Linked DNA regions of Homo sapiens. The protein of the gene in region 1 purifies or fractionates together with the protein of each later gene. This does not show direct contact. Each region holds a gene or a part of one and is shown on either strand. Other genes may lie near its edges. The genes, in order: ZCCHC2 and RMND5A.

The links.
Region 2: the proteins of ZCCHC2 (region 1) and RMND5A purify together in Homo sapiens (co-immunoprecipitation; one large-scale study listed by IntAct). This does not show direct contact.

Annotation. Positions count from the first base shown.
Region 1 is NC_000018.10:62,574,761-62,579,134, forward strand, and holds the end of ZCCHC2 (zinc finger CCHC domain-containing protein 2), read left to right. Parts: coding exon 1-790; intron 791-1,751; coding exon 1,752-1,819; 3' UTR 1,820-3,819; downstream 3,820-4,374.
Region 2 is NC_000002.12:86,765,291-86,769,109, forward strand, and holds part of RMND5A (E3 ubiquitin-protein transferase RMND5A), read left to right. Parts: intron 1-568; coding exon 569-734; intron 735-3,819.

The DNA.
Region 1 (4,374 bases):
CAGCCTACCAATGTGAAGGTAGTTCTTCCAGCAGCTGGCCTCTCAGCTGCTCAGCCACCAGCTTCCTACCCCTTACCAGGCTCTCCCCTTGCTGCCGGCGTGTTACCCAGCCAGAACTCCAGTGTGCTCAGCACAGCAGCAACTTCTCCCCAGCCAGCGAGCGCAGGTATCAGCCAGGCCCAGGCAACTGTTCCTCCTGCAGTTCCTACCCACACCCCAGGCCCTGCCCCGAGCCCAAGCCCTGCCTTGACACACAGTACCGCGCAGAGTGACAGCACCTCTTACATCAGTGCTGTGGGGAACACGAACGCTAATGGGACAGTAGTGCCACCGCAGCAGATGGGCTCAGGTCCTTGTGGTTCTTGTGGGCGAAGGTGCAGCTGTGGGACCAATGGAAACCTTCAGCTAAATAGTTACTATTATCCTAATCCAATGCCTGGACCAATGTACCGAGTCCCTTCATTCTTTACTCTGCCATCCATTTGCAATGGCAGCTACCTCAACCAAGCACATCAGAGCAATGGAAACCAACTTCCTTTTTTTCTGCCTCAGACTCCATATGCAAATGGACTGGTACATGACCCAGTCATGGGGAGCCAAGCCAACTATGGCATGCAGCAGATGGCAGGATTTGGGAGATTCTATCCTGTATATCCAGCACCTAACGTAGTTGCCAACACCAGTGGTTCGGGGCCCAAGAAGAATGGGAATGTCTCATGTTACAATTGTGGTGTAAGCGGACACTATGCACAGGACTGTAAGCAGTCGTCCATGGAGGCCAATCAACAAGGTAATCACAATAACTCCCAGAGGACTTGTTTTTGAGTTCACTCATTTCTCCTTCCTTTCCTTATTGATCATGGGATTCTGTTGTAGCAGAAAGATCTGTTTGTGTTTTCGTTTATGGATATTGTTTTCAGTGACAGATCATAAAATGCAACTGGAAAAACAGTGTAGACCCAGGTCACACAGAGCACAAGGAAGTTCAGAGGAATTCAGTTTCCAATTAAGGAATAAACTCTAAAGGCCCTTTTGAAGGAGTGTGATGGGAATTTGCATTCTGTAATGTTAAATCTCTTGCTTGCAGCACTTTTTTTTTTTAAGCTACAATCCTGTTTCATAGAGTAAGCAAAATTTTTAAATATTGAAAACCTAGGAAGTAATTTAGTTATCTGACATTAGGTTTTGAGTAACTATTTAGTATATCTGCATAACCAGCTGCCTCATGCCTGTTTCCCCATGCTACCCTTTTCCTTCCCAGCAAATGTTAAAAAAAAAAAGGTCCAAGATTCTATTGCATTAATACAGGAACAAAATAGTTCAGTACTATTTTGATTTGAGAGTAAAGGAATTTGAACAAAGTTTAATATTACTACCACCAGAAAGAAGAAAATGGTCTTACCTATGTTTGAGTAAGATACCAAATTTTATGTCAACTTCAGGCTGTTATTTTCACTTGCATTTGACCTTTGTCGTTTTGCCAAATCTTACCCAGAAACAAAAAAAGTCTTAAATTGGGAATATATTTACTTGGCATTCTTAAAGAAAGATCAAGTTTGATAGCTTTTAGATTGAATTCAAAGCACAAACTTTACATTGCTTTTTAAAGTGAGCGGATTGGCCATTTGGAGTGGCACTAGAGCTGACGAAGGTGCCTTGTGGAGAGCATGCCCGTGTGATAGCTTGTACGTAGTGGTTTGTGATGACGTTTGCTTGTAAGCGGTGACTTAGTTCTGTCTTTCCCATTTTAGGCACTTACAGACTGAGATACGCACCTCCCCTCCCCCCTTCTAATGATACGTTGGATTCTGCAGACTGAAACGAGTAAAGCTTGCCTACTTAATACACTCAAGTGTGGGGAGTCATGGGGTGTGGAGGGGAGGAAAGGAAAGGTATTTTGTTTCTTTGTCTATACATTTCCTAGATTTCTATGCAGTTGGGATTTTTCATTTCTCTTGTACCAATGTCCAAAACAAGAAAGAATGCAATGCTTTTGAGCCTCTGGTCTCCTGGTTCAACAACAGGCTTATATGTATGATACATGTAATTTAAACCTTCAGACAAACTTAAATGTTGGTGCGTGCTTTTTTTTTTTTTTTTACACTGAATACTTGCTGTGTGCAATGTTTACTGAATCTTTAAAACTGTGTATTTGACCTTTTTTTTACAACACTGGTGACAGTCATATGGTTTTGAAAAAAAAAAGAAATTTTGCTTCTTCCCAGCTTTTCTCACTTTCACCCTAAACGACACTTCCTCCCCAGCCAGCCTCACTCTGTCTCCGGCCCGCAGCAGGAGCAGCCAGCAGTGCATTCACCCCACTTTTGTAAACTGCTCTGCATATAAACCAAGGGCAGAATGTTTCACCCTGATCTTATGGGAGGAATCAAACTCCCAAAATAGTGTGTATATATGTAATAAACAGCGTCACGTAAATACATATATGCAGTGCTTGTTGTCCAAATAGAAATGAAAATAAGTGGAAGAGAGAGGAAGAAGTCAAACCATATGAAACTGAAAAAATATGACGTACGAAATGGACAAAAAGCTTTTTCTGAAACCAACTTTTTACTTCCATCATCCTTTTTTAGCCTGTTGCTTCAGAGAGACACAAAGTGAACACACTGGTGTGAATGTCGCTCTCTGTGTGCTTGTGTTTGTAATGAAAGTCTACAGCCAATTTTACTTGTCTACCACCGTGTTGTGCTCAAAGAGACACTACTTGAGTGAAGATTTCTTCTTTCCCTGTACCAGCTGTTACAGTGTTACGTTGTGTTTAAAATGTGTATGGTTTATTGCAATCTGAACAGAGCTATGGGTTTCTACCATAAGTCAGGTTGTTTGTTCCCTAACCTGTCTCTCATAGCAAAGTCACTTTTATAACAGTTTACCACTATGCTTGATTATAATGTGAAAGGCGGAATTCTGAGTGTGTTAAGATGGTATTAATCATGTCGGTGTCATGTCACTAAGTTTAATGCTGCTGTTTTTAAAAAAAAAAAAAAGTTTTTTTAAAAAGCCAATCTATGTACTAAATTGCTTCCAGGTAATTTTTGATTTCCTAAAGTGCACTGAGGTTATCTGGAAGATTGGGTGTATTTTTTGGTGACTGCTGCATTCATCAGCAATGAACAGTTTCCACTGTATAGTCCTAGGGGTCAGGGGGTGGGGGTTTCATTTTCCATTCCTCAGCACAGAGCAGAAATGATAGATTTTTATTGTTTGGAGTAACGTTGGTATGCAGCAGAGGAACGTAAACATTTGGTCTTGGTTCAGAAGCCTAACAGATTGCTAGACAAGAGAAAAAACTTGAAGAAAAAAGAAGCTTAATTTCATGCTTCATAAGTAGCATTTATATTTATAGCACCAATGTACATTTTGAAACTTTCTTTCAGGGGTGGGAGTTATGGGGAAGGGGTGGGTGTGAAGGGGTAGATGAAAGCTTTAATTTAGAAAGAAAGTTCAAGTAAAGGAAATTATTTTGATTAAATATATTTTATTTGATCTGGGTATTTTTGGACCACATTATTAAATTAATTGTTAAGCTGCAGTTGAGTTGTTCAAGTGAGAGTTTTGATAAGCCACTTATGGGCCGCGTTGTGAATCACTTGCCAGTTGTACTTTATGGAGCTTATTTTATGATTTAAAATACTGTACTGTACATAGGAGGTATGTTACCTTCTCCTTATTTGTATGTTTACCATATACTTTGATATTTGAAATGTTATGTACTGGAAAGGCCACTTATATTTCTAGAACAGATTGGATTTTATGCAACCTTTTTTCCTTGAATTAACAGCAATAAAAAAATGAAAAACAGCTTAAGAATTGTGCCTCATTGTAAATTTTGTAAAAGTGGAGATAGGACATCATACATGGCGATTTTTTTAAAGTTTTATTTAGGTATGTAATTATTTTGGGGTTAAGGATCAATCCATTTCCCTGCAGGGTGGGCAGTGAATCCCAAAGTTATTTACCATCTGGATGCTCCTCAGTTCTTCCCCCAAATAACCTTTTTGTTTTTGAGACGGGGTCTTGCTCTGTCGCCCAGGTTGGAGTGCAGTGGCGGGATCTCAGCTCCCTGCAACCTCTGCCTCCCTGGATTCAAGCGATTCTCCTGCCTCCGCCTCCTGAGTAGCTGGGATTACAGGTATGTACCATGACACCCAGCTAATTTTTGTATTTTTAGTAGAAACGGGGTTTCACCATGTTGGCCAGGCTGGTCTTGAACTCCTGACATCAAGTGATCTGCCTGCCTCTGCCTCCCAAAGTGGTGGGATTACAGGCATGAGCCTCCATGCCCGGCCTCCCAAGTAACTTTATATAGAGGTAATCTGCGTGACCACTAGAGAAAGGGGGACTGCACTCCGTGAG
Region 2 (3,819 bases), on another chromosome or scaffold:
TAAACAGTTGTAGTTGATAATCACTTACAGGAAAAGTTCTGACTGGCTCTAGACAAAAACAAAAATATTAAAGCCTCTTAGAAGTCAGAGATGTTGCAGATTTTGGAATTCCATATTAAACTTAGAGGAGATGTGAGAAAGAGCAAGGTGTGCACTTGCTCTTTTCCACCCCCACCTGGCTGTATGCTGCTGCTCTTGCCACAGCAAAGTGTCAGAGAGCCAAGGTGGCAACTGTCAACCCCACGAAACTGTGTAGGAAACATTAACTCTGCAGTCAGAGATAATGTGATGACATAATTGTTACTTCTCTAGGTAATGGTAATTATACTATGCTGTAGAGAAGAATTTAAATTATAAGTTCAGTATTTTCACTGCTTTCCTTTTCTTCCCTTTTCTCTCCATGCTGTTTAATTTAGGATGAAGGAAGAAACCAAGCTTAAGGACCAGAATTTTAAAAGACCTGTTAATACATTATTTTAGGCTGTATCAGTATGGGTGGGGGTATTCTTGCTTTTCGCAGCTTATTACTGCAAGCAAACTAATGCTTTCTTGCTGGTGCTTTTTTTAGACATTCAGGTTTTGATGGGAAGCCTTGTGTACCTGAGACAAGGGATTGAGAACTCACCATATGTTCACCTACTTGATGCAAACCAGTGGGCTGATATCTGTGACATCTTTACACGGGATGCTTGTGCCCTCCTGGGGCTCTCCGTGGAGTCCCCTCTCAGTGTCAGGTATGGAAATTAGCCCTGTCTGTTATTGAAGTATGCACTGCATTATCACCTTCCCTTAACTTGTTTGGTTCTTGATGTTTAAAGCCAAAATAACTTTTGTCTTTCCAAAGAAGAGTGCAATTGGTATTTCAAAAGATATCACAATTGGCAGTGATGCTGTTTTAGAGAAGCAGTTTTGAAAGTGTGGTGTATGAACCTCACAGGATCCTGAGAGCCTTTTCCACTGTATTGACATTAGTACAGATGGTCCAGAAACAGTGGTGGACTAAACTGCTAGAGCCTTAGCACAAGTTGGGGCGGTGGTACAAACTCCACGAATAGCTGGATTCCTCACCACCACACACTTGCAGTTTAAGAAATGCTAGTTTTACTTAACCACGTCTGTAATCTCAGCATTTTAGGAGGCCTAGGAGGGTGGATCACGAGATCAGGAGTTTGAGACCAGCCTGGCCAACATAGTGAAACCCGCCTCTACTAAAAACACAAAAAATTAGCTGGACGTGGTGGCGGGTACCTTTAATCCCAGCTAGTCGGGAAGCCGAGGCAGAAGAATCGCTTGAACCCAGGAGGCGGAGGTTGCTGTGAGCCAAGATTGCACCATTGCACTCCAGCCCGTGCAACAATGCGAGACTGTCTCAAAAAAAAAAAAAAAAAAAAAGAAAAGAAAAAAAGAATATTCTTGGCCTGGTGTGGTGGCTCACATCTGTAATTCCAGCACTTTGGGAGGCTGAGGTGGGGGGAATCTCTTGAGGCCAGGAATTCAAGACCCACCCGGGTAACACAGCTAGACTCCATTTCTACAGAAAACTTTTTTAAAAAAGGATGTTCTTGGTGAAACATTAAAATTATTAGTTTTATTAAATCTTGACCTTTCAGTACACATCATCTTAATAATTTGTATGACAAAATAGGAAATCCACATAAAGCACTTCAGTTTCATGTCAAAGTATGGTAATTGTCTTGAGAAAAAGTATGTTGTTTTGAGTTATGAGCTAGCTGGTCACTTTTTTTCATGGAATACTTGTTTTGTTTGTTACTTGTTTTTTTCTTGCTTTTTTGAGATGGAGTCTCCCTCTGTCCCCTGGCTGGAGTGTAGTGGCGCAATCTCAGCTCACTGCAGCCTCCACCTCTTGGGTTCAAGCGATTCTCCTGCCTCAGCCTCTGGAGTAGCTGGGATTACAGGCGCCTGCCACCACGCCCAGCTAATTTTTGTATTTTTAGTAGAGACAAGGTTTCATCATGTTGGCCATGCTGGTCTCGAATTCCTGACCTCAGGCGATCCACTGCCTTGGCCTCCCAAGGTGCTGGGTTTATAGGCGTGAGCCACCGCACCAGCCTTGGAATAGTTTTTACTTGGAAGAATCATTAACATAGTTACGCACACTCAGGTTTTTGGCAGTCTTTTTTTTTTTTTTTTTTTTTGTCTTTTTTCTTAAATTTTTAAGACATTCTTGCTATGTTGTTCAGGTTGGACTCAAACTCCTGGGCTCAAGTGATTCTCCTGCCTCAGGCTCCTGAGTAGCTGGGAGTACAGTTGTGTGCCACATCACCCAGCCATTTTTTTAAGTGAACGAAGCAAGCCTGTCACATTTGAAAGGTCTTAATTAAGTATGATTTTACAAAAGCATGCATGAGTAAAAGAGTCATTCAAAGTACAAGACAGACAAATGGATTTTAATGTAGCAGGGTACAAAAAGTTTAATGGTAAAGTTTCAGATTCTGCTCTGCAGCGAACCTTTAGAAAACTACTACCTGTTTTGGCCAAAACTATGAAAAGTCAGTTTTCGTGTGGTATTAAGGAGGAGTATCCACAATGATCCAAAGTGATCAAAGTAGTACTACACATATGTGTGAAACAAGGTTTTTTTTCATTTACCTCAACCAGAAGAACGTATCACAATAGATTTAATGCAGAGTAAACTATAAGAATCCAGCTGTCTTTCTGTTAAGGTAGGCATTCAGGAGAGTTGTGAGAGTTTGGAACAGTGCCACTCTTCTCACACATATATTTTTGTTTTGGAAACTGTAGTTATTTTTTTATAAGAATGTTTGCAATAATGGCATGGTATTTTATTTTTACATGAACTAATCGGCACCTTTTATGTTTCTCATTTTAATTTCTAATGTATTAAAGATATAATCCACAAAAAGAAAAGCTCTTTGAGATCCTTAATACTTAAGCATATAAAGGGGTCCTGAAACCAAAACATTTTAAGAAACTGTTGTAAGAAAATAACTCTTTTTTAGCTCTTCTATTCATTTAATTCCACAAATGTTTTGCATACCTGCTATGTGCCAGGCACTGTGGGCACTGTGTTGGATATGAAGATGAATAAGGTGCATTCCACAGGGTGCTCCATCCTAGCGTAGGAGTGGACAGATGCAATTAGCTATAATGTGAGGCGCTGATGCCATCAAGTTCTCTGAGGAAGACTCTAAAGTGGGAATGTACATGCAGAAAGTTTACTGACATCAGCACCTGTGGGAGAATGAAAACAGCAGGATTGGGCAGAGAGGAAAGTTGGACTGTATTAGAGTGGCAACAAGGTGTCTCCCATCCGTGAGGAGCTCTGGAGCTGCTGTGGGCCCGTGGAGTTGTCCCAAATTGGGCCTATAGGGCTGGGGTTTTGTACCCTCACATGGAGCAATTGCTGGATGTGACTCTGGTCAGATGACTCTCTTCAACTGAGGACAGTCCTGAAGAGACGGACACAGCTGAGAGTTGGCTGCCAACACTTCCAGATCTGAGAAATGAGTGCTTCCACCCTGGACAGGGGTGATCTGGGGATAAGAGGAACTATGCAAAAAAAATGTTTCAGGAGCAAGCATGTCATTTGACTGATAAGCTGAGCCCATTAAATCCAGTTGTTTTGTGCAATATAAAACCTTTTTTGGCACTAATGTAAGATTATTATGAAATTCTTTATATTTTACTTTTTGAAACAGGGTCTCATTCTGTTGCCCAGGTTGGAGTGCAGTGGCACGATCGTGGCTCACTGCAGCCTCAACCTCCTGGCATCCTCCCACCTCAGCCTGCTCAGTAGCTGGGACTCTAGGCACATGCTACCATACCTGGCTAATGGCT